2 linked regions of the Homo sapiens genome follow. The protein of the gene in region 2 purifies or fractionates together with the protein of the main gene of each other region. This does not show direct contact. Each region holds a gene or a part of one and is shown on either strand. Other genes may lie near its edges.

Evidence for each region.
Region 1: the proteins of CCNJL (region 2) and STC2 purify together in Homo sapiens (affinity purification with mass spectrometry; 3 studies listed by BioGRID and IntAct, with this or other methods). This does not show direct contact.

What each region holds. Positions count from the first base shown.
Region 1 is NC_000005.10:173,325,023-173,333,159, reverse strand, and holds the start of STC2 (stanniocalcin-2 precursor), read left to right. Parts: upstream 1-4,745; 5' UTR 4,746-4,966; coding exon 4,967-5,117; intron 5,118-7,149; coding exon 7,150-7,292; intron 7,293-8,137. UniProt on the Homo sapiens protein: Has an anti-hypocalcemic action on calcium and phosphate homeostasis.
Region 2 is NC_000005.10:160,248,437-160,253,963, reverse strand, and holds the end of CCNJL (cyclin-J-like protein), read left to right. Parts: intron 1-165; coding exon 166-586; 3' UTR 587-4,881; downstream 4,882-5,527.

The DNA.
Region 1 (8,137 bases), about 13 Mb from region 2:
AAAAGCGTTGTGTTCCCACACTTCCAAAGTTGGTTGTTTGGGGAACTCAGAATATATTTTCTTCCAAGAAACAATATTATACATGATAGGTTTACAGGCCAGCACCACAAAATCCTTCTTAACTCATTGTGTTGTTGGGCACTGCACTTTTATGGTATAAATTAGTAGAATATAATTTGGTTATAGTATTAAGAATAAACAAACCCAAATATTGAAGATATAATCTCCTTTATCCTGAATTATATTTAATGAAATAACCAGTTTAATGAAAAAAAGATAAGAGCAAAGATAGAGGCTTTTTTTTTTTTGAGACAGGGTCTTGCTCTGTCACCCAGGCTGGAGTACAGTGGTGCAATCATAGCTCACTGCAGCCTCAACCTCCTGGACTCAAGCCATTCTCCCAGAACCTCAGTCTCCCGAGTAGCTGCGATTACAAGCACATACCACCACGTCTGGCTAATGTTTGTATTTTCTGTAGAGACGGGGTCTTGCCATGTTGCCCAGGTTGGTCTCGAATTCCCGGGCTCAAGCGATCTACCTACCTCAGCCTCCCAAAGTGCTGGGAGATGGAGGCTTTTTAGGGAGAGACCTCTGCTTGCAAGATAATTTGGGAGGCCTGATAGCAGCAGTTTGTTATTTTTTTCTGTCCGGTTTCACCTTGATACCTTTTTTCATTTTCCTTCATACAGGTATGATGCACAGGAGCCAGGATTAGGGTAAATTTGAGACTCACAAAGGAAAACAGCAACGGATAGGGGAGCAAGAGGGAAAATAAGTGTGAAAGAGATCTCTTTGATGGGGGGATTAAGGCATGTTATTGCGAGGAGATTGGCTAAATCTGCATTAATTGATTTGCTAAGAAAAGGAAAGGAAACTGGGGAGAAGGCTGGAGACCCAATATCAGAACTTTCCAGGCAGGCAGAGTCGTGAGGACTGTGTAGCCAGACAGTTCCCTCTCTGACCATAAGGTGGTGCCATCAGCCCAGACAGTCGGCCCCAAGGGGGCGGGGCGTGCAGTGGGTGGAGCTCCCCACGTGTAAGCCATGTTCTCCACTCAGGTTCCGGAACTCAGAAAGCCTGGACCAGGCAGCACGTGTCAACTTGCACATCACTGACTCAGCACCCACGAACTATGCCCATCCGCTAAAGCCCCTTCGGCTCACACTCGAGCAAGAACACGTCTGTCTTGCTGGGCATCGAGACGCACGTGAAGATTCCAACTAATTCCTTCCCACTCCTCTGCTCTTTCTCCACAATGGCAGCTCTGGGCCCCTGAGCATTTCCTAATTCCTAAAGAGAACCTAGTCTAAAGCGCCCTACAGTCTCATCCTTAAATACCGTCAGATCTTCCGTGAGGAGCACAGATTTGTCACAAGGAGCCCAGCCTTCACAACATGCCCTGGCCGACTTCCCCAGTTTGATGTCCCACTTTCACACCTAACTGGGCAACCCCTATTCCTGATACAAATCCCACCGGATCCTCTCCATGCATTTAGCCCTGCTGGTCCTCCCACCTCCCATGCCCACTTTTTTCCTTGCCTCTACTTGTCACTATCCTCCCCCATCCTTCATGGTCTAACCCAAATATCCCCTCCCCCAAAACCTGCCACTCAGTGTTGACCGCATGTAACTAGCAAAGTGGATTTAGACAGGAAAACATGGGCTCCAGGCGTCAACCACAGAAGGCCCTGGATGACACAAGGTAGGTCATGTCTGCCTCTTCCTGGCTGTGTATGCGTTAAATTGAGGAGGAGGGCCCATCCAGACAGGTGCTGCTGAACCTCAGGACAGCAGCTGGTCCATCCAGGAGACCTCCCAGGCCTCAGTTCCCATCTAGGGAGGGCCCTAGGTCTGGAGGGACACCAAAGGCATGAGTGTGGTGTGTGGTGCGGTGTCATGTTAGCTATATAATAGTAATAATGATTATTATTACTGTCCCCTGCCCCACCCTCATCAGCCACAGTCTGCCAAACTTGGCCTCAGTTATAAAGCTAAAGGAATCAGCCAGAGAGAGGGGGAGTCAATCACAACAAAGTCACCAGTCTGAGCCCCCATCCCACTTCTACCCCTGCGGCCTAGACTGGCCATTTCAGCAAACTGCCTAGTGATTCTGCAAGGGAATTTTCACAGCCTTGGCGGGTCGGACTCAGATGGGCATTCTTATCTGGATGCTTTGGACTTGGCTAAGTGGCCCAGAGATAAACCCTTAAGAACTAGTGCCTGTGCTTACGCCACCTCCAATTCTAGCTACTATGTGTTCTTTTGGTTCTAAAGGGGCAGTTGGCTCAGGTGAAAACCAGGAATGTCCCTTGGAAGGCAGGAGCAAACAGCCTCAGGACGAACTTTGAAACTATGTAGGTCCTCTGAGGGCAGCCCCAGGGGCCCCATGGTAGCAAAAGGTAGGCCTAGCCAAAGGCTGGGCAAAGCAGGAGCAGGGAGAGCTCCATCCCCCTGGCCATCGCTCCAGGTATCCTGGGAGGCCTCTGCCCAGCACACTAAGTGTCTGCATCTGGCAAAAGAGGGCTTGCTCCTGCCCCATGGAGCTCTCTCCTATTTCTGCTTCTCAAAAAAAAACAGGTGACCAGATGCCTTCTTAATGTCAATATTGCTCATGTTCTCTCCTACAAAAGAGGCCACATAGAAAGAAAGTCTACCCAGCTGTACCCATAAGCAGGAGTGGGACCAAATGGCTACTTGTTCTCAGGAAATTCAGAGCCTTAAAGAGTTAGTTAGGAGAGGCCAGAATGCCGCTGTGTCGTTTGTTTGCTTTGTTTTTAAGGATCTACAGGAGGTAGTTTTCCATAAACTAGGAAGCTAAGTTAACTATGCAAACACAAGCAGGGTGGGCAATGTGAACTGGCCGTTTTAATGTATTTGTACCCGCACGTCCTTGCACAAAAGATCCAAGGCTGCGCGGAGTAATTGCTATTAGAATAGTGGGCATGGTCCCTACCGCCGCAGGTTCGGACCTTCAAAGTGACAATTTATGGATGCTCCCTGGCGCTCCAGCGCAGGGGAAGCCCACTCTGAAGACGCCCTCCCCACCCCCTCCTCTCCTTCCTTCCGACTCAGGAGAGCTCGACACGCCGGATAGCTGCGGCCAGCCGTGGCCATCCTGGCCCCCCGCCTCCGCCTTCCCCACTCCCGCGTGCAGCCGGGACACGGGAAAGGAAAGCTTTGGAAGTCAAGCGCCGGCCAAAAGATGACCTGCCCGCGTGTCTCCTCGCCCCCTCCCCCAGCCGTGTCACATGGCGGCCCCAACCAGGCGGGCAGTGCGCCCCGCCGCGGAGACCCAGGGCCGCGTCGCCTGGGCAGTGGGTGATGAAACTTCCCAGGCGCATTACCGCAGAGGGCGCGGGCGGGGCGCGGGGCGGGGGTGGGGGATCGAGAGCTGGTACCGGGGCTCACCTGTTCTCCAGGAGGAGGGTGGGGACGGGGGGAGGGGCGAGTGCGCGCCAACGCCGGGTGCGTGCCCTGGGGCGCTTGGGCGCGGCGCTCGTGTCCCCGCCCTCCCCCAGCCCTGCGAGCCCCCCGAGCTGCGCCGTGGGGTGACGGGACCGAGAGCAGTTCCTGTCCCCGGCCCCGGCGCGGGGGAGACGTGAGCGTGCACACGTACACACACAGCAGGGGAAGAGGCGCTCCAAGCGGCGCCCAACTTTCTCCTTCCCTCCACGGGCCGGGTGAGAAAGTAGCCGGGGGCTATCCCGACCCGGCGGTTCTTGGGGAGGGGGCCGAACAAGAAAAGGGAGGAGATGGAGATAACTTCCCCGGATTTAGCTTTTTTGTCTTTGTTTTTGTTCTCACCACTTCCATCGGATGACTGGAGAGTAAAAGGGAACCCGGAGCGGGGTGGCGAGCAGCGCTTTGAGAAAATGCAGGAGTGTGTTTGGAGACGCGTAAAGTTGCCTTTCAAGCTCTGGCCTCCGGGCACGCGATGCTCCGCGGCGGGCTGACTCAGGGCTGCCTTGGGCCTCCCTGCCACCCTCCTGGAAATGATGCAAGTCCTGACTGTCACCTGGATCCCTGCAGCCCAGCCTGGAATGCGTCTGGATTAGGGGAAAGACGAGAAACGACACTCCAGGTGTTGCACGGCCCACCAAAGCGGGAAGATAGGGCAGTTGCTCAGACCAAATACTGTATCTAGTGCTTCTGCTCCTATCTTCAATCGTGGGGTTCTTTTTAATGCAAAGTGTCACAAGGCCAGGAATTCCCATGTGTGCTCAGTTGGCCCACAGCATCATTGTGCCTAGGAAACTGCTTCAATTTATCAAGTCCTCTGGGCTGGGAATCTCACTGAATTCCAAACGGCGGAAAGAGGAAACTTTCCCAACCCGATGTGGGTGTGACGCGAGCCAGGGGCCCCAGGGACACTGTCCCAGAGCACACCGTCCCCCTTTAACAGCAACTGGAGCTTGGATTCGCTCTTATATTGTACAGTCCTTTCGACCATTGCCCTGGAGCACCCGCACACGCGCACGCATCTCCGGCCGCGCTCACACACACTCATACACACGCACGCAAACGCGTGGCCGCCGCCAGGTCGGCAACTTTGTCCGGCGCTCCCAGCGGCGCTCGGCTTCCTCCTGTAGTAGTTGAGCGCAGGCCCCGCCTCCCGGCCGTGTTGTCAAAAGGGCCGGGGTCTCGGATTGGTCCAGCCGCCGGGACAACACCTGCTCGACTCCTTCATTCAAGTGACACCAGAGCTTCCAGGGATATTTGAGGCACCATCCCTGCCATTGCCGGGCACTCGCGGCGCTGCTAACGGCCTGGTCACATGCTCTCCGGAGAGCTACGGGAGGGCGCTGGGTAACCTCTATCCGAGCCGCGGCCGCGAGGAGGAGGGAAAAGGCGAGCAAAAAGGAAGAGTGGGAGGAGGAGGGGAAGCGGCGAAGGAGGAAGAGGAGGAGGAGGAAGAGGGGAGCACAAAGGATCCAGGTCTCCCGACGGGAGGTTAATACCAAGAACCATGTGTGCCGAGCGGCTGGGCCAGTTCATGACCCTGGCTTTGGTGTTGGCCACCTTTGACCCGGCGCGGGGGACCGACGCCACCAACCCACCCGAGGGTCCCCAAGACAGGAGCTCCCAGCAGAAAGGCCGCCTGTCCCTGCAGAATACAGGTAAGTGCATGTGCCCCCGCAGCCGGGAGCTACTGGGAGAGGACACCGTGCACCCACGCGGCGCGCCCCAGGCGTTTCGCCGGGAGCCAGGCGCCCACCCAGGGCCACGCAAACTCTTGGGATGGCACGGGACGTGCAAAGGGAAGCGCGAGGCAAGGCGAGGTCCGCGCCGGGCTCCGAGGGCCCGGAATCTGCACGTGCTAGCAGGGTGATGAAATGGCTGGGGCAGGACTTGTTGCTGTCCTCCCCAGGGTCGAGGGGAAATGAAGCAGCGTCTGACGCTGCCAGCGCCAGCCCCCGCCCCCGAATCCCGGGTCCGGTGCAAAGCGCGCTTCATCCCGGCCGGCACGCGGGAGGCCCAGAGGGTCCCCGGAGCTGGGCTGCGCCCTGCGCCCGGAGAACTTCTCTTCCTGGCCTGCCGGCCTCAGTAAGGGTGCCGCGTCTTCCCCCTCCTCAAAAGATGCCCGACATCCCAGAACTTTGCCGGCGAGACAAATGGCATTGCGAACTTTCCCCCTGGGGGCACTGCTTTCGGAAGGGAGCGTGAGGGCAGCGCAAAGCGTACCTCCGCGGTGCTGCCGCCATCCCCAGCTCCTGGCCAGGTCAGCAAGCCAAGAAATGGTGACACGACCCGAACCGTGCGCCTCCTCTGCTCTACCGGCTCTTGGCTCACCGGCAAGCTGCAAAGCAGAGCCAGGCGTGCAGGGCACGGGGCTGGCCCTTTTCCCAGCTCGGAAAGAGAAAGAAAATCTGCCTACAGCTCCTTCGCTCCACGACCCCTCCCCCGACTTTGGGGGGCCGTGTGAACGCGGCAGCGGCGGCGTGCGTGCGCTCACCGCACGAGCTGGAATGCACGAGTGCCCATTAGGGACGCCCCAAGTGAGTGAATGGCGGCCCTGTGCGGTCCTGCCCCGGCGGCGCGTGGGGTCTTACGGATCCTGTCGCCTCCACATGCTGGGGCCGGCACCCCCACCACCCCGAGACCCTCGCCCACCCTCCCCCTCCTCTGGCGCTTCCTCTGAGAACTGAACCTGATTCTCGGTGGTCGGTGACCCTCAACAATACACGCCCCTCATTCTCTGGCTAGATTTAATCTGATGCGGGTTATCTGCTCCGACCCCGCCCTTCTTCCAAAATATACTTTTCTGATGTAATTTTGTGGTTGATTTAAATCAGAGACTTGGGTAGTGGAAAGGGAGGGAAGAGGCTTTGCACGCTGCAGCCTGACAGTTAACTCCCTCCGTCTGCCCCTTCCGAGAGAGGACTGGGGGCCACATTCGGTGAAGGGCTGCAAGCTTCCTCCCGGGCTGCGGGAATTCTAGGGGATTGGGTGATACCTCACCCGGATCCCTAATTAAAAGGAGCCTGCAACCTCTGATAGTGGCGTTTCTGAAGGCTCGCCCCCAGCTGACTCCACTCCTAAGCCTGCTCGCCAACCGCAGCTTCCCTAGCTGGTATTTTAATGCGAAGGGTTGGGAGGCACTGCCTTAATAGGAATTTTGTTTTGATTTTTAGGTGTTGAATCATAAAGCTGAATTGAAACTGCTTTTTAGATGCTGTCATTTGGGGGTCAGGAAGCAAATGGCTGTGATTTAATAGCAGCAACTTCTACAGATCAAGTAGAGAAGGGTACTTCATTGATGAAGTACAGTCTTCGACTCAAAATTTTATTTTTGTCTGTGGGTTTAAAAAGCGGAAATATATTTTGCTCTCAAACTAAGTATTCCCACAAATACTTTAATAAAATGGAAAGGATGAAAAGGAGGAATGCTCAGACCAGCCTTCTGGTTGTAATTTTTGTAATTTTTCGGCTCTTTTCTACAAATATTTACAAATAGAGATATTTTTCATGAGTAGATTAAAGGACGAAATTTTGTTTCCCAGGCTTTTTAGGTCCTGAAATAGTCATTACTAAGTCTTTTTTCCTCCTTAAATTTTCCTTTAGTTGTTAACTTTTATTTCAAATGACCTCTCTGCATTGCCCAGCATGGGTTAGAGTTTTGTATATATTTGTATGTGATTTTCCTTTTAGCGGAGATCCAGCACTGTTTGGTCAACGCTGGCGATGTGGGGTGTGGCGTGTTTGAATGTTTCGAGAACAACTCTTGTGAGATTCGGGGCTTACATGGGATTTGCATGACTTTTCTGCACAACGCTGGAAAATTTGATGCCCAGGTAAAAATCCATCCAGAGCATGAAGAATGTTTGGGGTGAGCATACATGATTGAAACGTTCATTGGAAAGCCTTGTTAACCAACTTCCTTTGCTGTTCCTTGTGGTGTGTTTTAGTGCTTGCAAGCGACAGTCTAGGTATAAAACATTATGCCAGTGTCTCCCTTCTGCACTCATAAGCTGTGTCTACACAGGCAGGGTGGACTGGAGACCAATGTCATAATAAACGATAAACACCTTGTAAGGGGACACGCTGTGTCTGGCCACCCAGAACTCAGTCTCCAAAGCCCACTGCATGAGAGGCAGGGGCAGGAACCCCCAATTATACATTTCAGAAGTCATTTCACCTACTAGGAAAATGAGACACAAAGTATGTAGAAATCCGTCATGTGGTGTGTGGGCAGCCAACCCGAATAACTCAGGACCTCCAAAAGAGCAGACTTCTATTCCTCCTGAGTAGCAGATCTTTCTCTCCCAAGCTGACCGGTCGAAACCCTGATTGAGTCCTTCAGTTCCACACTTTCCTTTTGCTCTATATGATAAATATAGTCAGGGCCTGACCCACTTCGGTTATCCCAGGGTCCCAAGGGGAACGCGGAGTTGCTGCTCAGGGCAAGGCAGGAACACAACAAGCAACATATGGCTCCAGTGCCAACAACGCAAATACATTTTTAGATGGCATGTGGCATCAGACTCACCTTCTTCGTGTTCTCCCTGGCCACTTATATGCCCTGTTGAAACGCCCTGTTACTATATCTCAGAAACGTCTCTCCTGCTTCATTGGAGAGCAATGCCAACATTTGGAGGTGGCCATCAGCTTAGGTGAGATTTATGGATGTCACCAGTCC
Region 2 (5,527 bases):
GAACAGCTGGAGCGGTGCCACACACAGTGAGCACAGCCAGGTAAGGCCTGGTGGACACAGGACACACGCATCTCTTCCAGTCCCACTTAGCAAGACAGGTAGAGACACACACAGGCATCTGGTGGCTTTTGGCCTCCAGTTCTCACCCAGGTCTTCTCGTTTCAGAGTGTATGACAACGTCCTCAAGGATGCCGTAGCCGTCAAGAGCCAGGCCTTGGCAATGGTGCCCGGCACACCCCCCACCCCCACTCAAGTGCTGTTCCAGCCACCAGCCTACCCGGCCCTCGGCCAGCCAGCGACCACCCTGGCACAGTTCCAGACCCCCGTGCAGGACCTATGCTTGGCCTATCGGGACTCCTTGCAGGCCCACCGTTCAGGGAGCCTGCTCTCGGGGAGTACAGGCTCATCCCTCCACACCCCGTACCAACCGCTGCAGCCCTTGGATATGTGTCCCGTGCCCGTCCCTGCATCCCTTAGCATGCATATGGCCATTGCAGCTGAGCCCAGGCACTGCCTCGCCACCACCTATGGAAGCAGCTACTTCAGTGGGAGCCACATGTTCCCCACCGGCTGCTTTGACAGATAGGCCACCTCCAGACCTCACGAGGAAGCCTTGGAGATGTGGGCAGAGGAAGAGGACACTGAAGAGGAGAGCTCAGCCAAGTGAGGCAGCAGGAGGCCATCCCTGAAGAGCCTTGGAACGTGGAGGGTCTGTGCTCCTTTTAAATAAAACTGACCCAGAGCAAAACATTCAATAACATACCTCACCCGAGAGCATTCCTCTGAGAAACGTCTGCCACGTGTGGCTAGGGTACAAAAGGATGGCTTGGTGGCCGTCCCCCCACACAGGGGCCCAGTGAATCGAGAAAGACTTGATAAGAGGCCAGGAGAGTGGGAACTGGACACAGACCACTGATCTCAAGCATGTCCAGTTTTTAGCATTAAAGACTTTTCTATTCTTTGCTGATGGCAGCTACACCGCTGAAAAAGGAGGGGCAGCCTGGCGTGTTCTCAGGACCCCCGGAGGATCCCATATTGGGTGCTTTTCTTTCCCTGGCTCTATGCAGAGGGGCCTGAGTTGGTGTGTATGCCTGAGTGTTTGCCTTGCGAGGCACAGTGGGTGGCTGTCTTGCCTTTGTTTTCGAACCTAAAACCATTTTCAGCCTTTTAGATATGTCATGTGCTGCTGCTTCCCGAAGTGGTCTTGCTTTCTGTTTCGTAAGATGTCTTGTTTACACACTGTATCAGGGATTTGGTGATACTTGAAAATTCCTTTGGAGAAAAAAACAAATTTAATTGCCACACTGCCTGTCCCACATGAGGGCTGTTAATTTGGAACCCAAGTTTGAACCCAACTTGTGATGGACCCGCAGGTAACCACAGAGCTTCCTTTTTGAAGGCATATGGTTGGAGAGAACCATTTTCCCAGCTCTCGGTTCCGGAAGATTCCACGTCTTGGAGGCTGTGTTCACCACTAGAACTTTAATAACTACCCAGGGAGGGAGAAGCTCGTTGAAAGGAAGACAAAGATTTAAACAGTTCCCACCTCTCTCCACCACATACTTACAGGGCATGAGTTTAACCCAGTCTAGGCTTTGAGTGTGGCTGATAGCGAAGGATAGCAATGTGGAAAATTTGCTTAGTCCCACCTGTATTTGGGGAGTGGGATGTACATGGGCGTTTGATACCACCATTGATAGGCAAGCGACTGGTTGGATCAAAAGCCAGTATTTAGGGATCTGCAGCGAGAGGGCCCTCAGGAAGACTCTTGTAACCATGTGCAATATGTTTTTATTCTGACTCGCAGCTTGTGCTCAGCATGTTCTTTGGTTTAGTTTGGGGTTGGGGGACACATTGTTCACCCAGCAGAACTGGGAGGTGCAAAGGACCGTGGAAGCAATTTTTGTTTTGTTTGAGGAATACCTGTCTTGGATTCCTTAGCCCCTTGCCAGTCCTGGAGACTGTGGCAGGGGCCGCCAGGAAGGCAGCTGTCTGCTGCTGAGTCAGATCGGAAGGTGGTGAATCTTTCCAGAGCAGCTGAAAATCTCAGCATGGAGACAGTAAGAAAAGAGACGGGGTGTGGATAAGACTCTGCCACCGTGTCACACTAGCATAGGAGGCTGCACGTTCATTTGTTGTTGTTTTTTTTTCCTTTGCCAACCTCCGTTCTATTTATGTGCAAGCAGTTTGGATTCAAGTTCTTGTATCTGTCTGTTCTGGGACCTGGGGATTGTGAGGGTTCCCTCACAGCCAGCACGACCCCCAGAAAGAGGCGTCCCACAATAAACACGTCACCTGCTCTTGATCTCTCACCTCTTGTCCTAGGCATCCCCTCTTGGGCCGGCCCCTCCTTCCCTCTCTCAAATCAGCCCTGGTGAGCATCTCCCTATGGTAGAGGGTGGAATATTGGGGGCAGCAGCAAGACCTCGGGAGCTGAGTCCTGCCCTCTGAGTAGGAGCTGGGCCTCCCTGGGCACACAGAGGCCAGCGGAGGGGTGTATAAGGCTTGACACCCCAGCTCCATCACCGTCTCAGGGTTTTTCCAAAGAAACCAGTAGGATATATATGGAGAGAGATTTATTTTAAGGAATTGGCTCATGTGATTGCAGAGGCTGTGGTCTAAAATTTGTGGGGCATGTCAGCAGGCTGGAAATTCAGGTAAGAGCTGATGTTGCAGTAGAGTTCAAAATCTGTAGGGCAGGCCCACAGGCTGGAAACTCAGGCATGATTTCTGTGTTAGCAGTCGTGAGGCAAAATTTATTCTCCAGGAAACCTCAATCTTTGCTCTTACGACCTTTTACCAGTTGGATGAGGCCCACCCACATTATGGAGGCTTTTCTTAAAGTCAACTGATTGTAAATGTTAATCACATCTAAAAATACCTTGACAGCAACATCTAGACTAGTACCTAGCCACACAACAGGCACTGTAGCCTAGCCAAGCTGCCACATAAACTTAATGATCACACCACTTACCAGCTGTTGGAAGGCAGTTGACCCAACCTCTCTCTGAGCCTCCATCTTGTCACCTGTTAAAATGGGAGTGATAACACCTTGCCTCATAGGGTTCTTAAGAGGATTAAATAACATAATGTACATCAAGGCCAGTACCTCCAAAAAAGGAGATAATTATTATATTTCTTCAAGCATAAGATCAGCTTTTTGTAAGATGCACTATTATTTTATGCACTAATAAGACTTTTTAGAAAACTAAATCATGAGGCAGTTTGCAAGATACCATTGATTATATGTTGCATTCTGATTTCAGAAGCGTTACATGTCAAAATATGTATATGTAGAATTGATGAGATATAGCATCAGCTGTTATGAAAAATGTCAGATTCGTACTCCTCCTTGAAGGGAGTCTCACTCAAGACTTCTGTCTTGCCCTCTACCTACCCAGCTTCCAGCAGGAGAACCACCCCAGAGAGCCGGTGTCACTGTGGGGCTGAGACATTTGCTAAGTGCAGATGCCTTTGATTAGACAATTAGGGGAGGAATGGGAAGATGAGCTCAGGGCCTGAGGCTGCAGCCCAGACCCAGGAGTGTGTTTGACACCGCCAAGGGCGGGGCTGAGGGCAGTGCTCACCACCCGCTGTGTGCAAGGCTAGGTGAGGCAGGAAGCTCTAAGTTTTGGGGATTCAGAGACAAGGCAAGTCTTGGGTTGACCAAGAGCACCCACCTCACTTTGGACAAATCCCTCCCTCTTTGGGCTTCCATTTCTCCATCTGTTACTATGGAGATGGTCAAGTTGGTGGATGGTTCTAAGCTCTTGGGGCGGGGGGAGACTGTGCCACAGAGGCTGTGACCTCTGTGGCCTTCAGCCAGAGGGATCCACTTGTATTTCTTCCACCCTTGGGCACTCCCATGTAAGATTGTGTTAATTCCCATGCTGGAGGACAGCTATGAAAGCTTTAAAAAGCACAAAGATAGTCTTAAAGTTCCTCCCAGGGCTGGCATCAGGTTAAATTCAGAGGTTTTCAAGCCTGAGCAAGCTGCAGAATGACCTGGAGCCTTCTCTAGGAGGGGTGGGGACCTGGAATCTGCACTTTAGCCAGCTTCTTGGTCATTCAGGCATATGATTTCTTTGTTTGTTTTTTATATTTCAGTTGTATTTTTATAACTCCCCAGTTTAGTTTGATTTTTTAAATTTTTATTTTATTTATTTATTTATTTATTTATTTATTTATTTATTTATTTTTTGAAACAGGGTCTCACTCTGTGGCCCAGGCTAGAGTGCAGTGGCACAGTCACGGCTCACTGCAGCTTCAACCTTCTGGGCTCAAGTGATCCTCCCACCTCAGCCTCCTGAGTAGCTGGGACTACAGGCACCTGTCACCATACCCAGCTAATTTTGGTATTTTTTGTAGAGATGAGGTTTCACCATGTTGTCCAGGCTGGTCTCAGACTCCTGAGCTCAAGCAATCTGACTGCCTCGGCCTCCCAAAGTGCTGAGATTACAGGTATAAGCCACTACGCCTGGTCCAGCTTGTTTTGAAAAGTATTTTCTGACGTCTATATGAATTTAACAGAATTATCTCAAAGTACACAGAAATTACCTGTATTTGCCAGTAAATATGAGATGCTGATGAAAGAATACTCAATATACCAATATTTAAGCATGTCAACATAATAGAACTTTTTCCACCTTTTAAAATTATTTTTCCCACCTAACCCAATTTATATTTGACATTTGGGTTACATGTGCATATAGAAACAGACCTATTCCACAACTGACCATAGATAAACTAGCATGCAAGTGTCCTTTCTGGATGTAATTAAGTTTCAGAGGCAGCATGGTTCAAATGGGAGCAAATGAGCTGACCTCCTCATGAAATACACTAGGCAAAAAATCAAGAAGTATTAAAGTTGCTAAAGACTGATTCCAGATCTTTTATTTCTTCCTTTTTCTTTTTAATTTTGAGACAGGGTCTCACTCTGTCGCCCAGGCTGGAGTACAGTGGTCCGATCTCGGCTCACTGCAACCTCTGCTTCCCAGGTTCAGGCAATTCTCCTGCCTCAACTTCTCAGGTAGCTGGGAGTACTGGTGCGCGCCACCATGCCCGGCCAATTTTTGTATTTTTAGCAGAGACAGGGTTTCACCATGTTGGCCAGGCTGGTCTCAAACTCCTGGCCTCAAGTGATCCACCCGCCTCGGCCTCCCAAAGTGCTGGGATTACAGGCATAAGCCACCCGCCCAGCCTCTTCCCTATCTTTTAAATATACAAGTGTGCACTGTGGGTGTGTGTGAATTAAGACGATTCTGGACTGTGAGCTCCTATGGGCGGGGCTATTGTCACTCTATAAAAAGCCCTAGGGCAAAAAGATGGAGGTAGTGCAGGGAGCAGAGGGCGCCTGTCCTCCATCCAGCCATCATCAAACCCACCGAAGAGGCAGACCCGATTAAGTCTTAGTGGGTTAGGTGTTGACCTGGGCCTTCAAGGGAGGTTTTACTCCACTGTGTTTTATTTTATTGTTTTATGTCGTTTGTTCCACTATTTTTGTAATTGGGGCAAAGTGAGAGGTTCA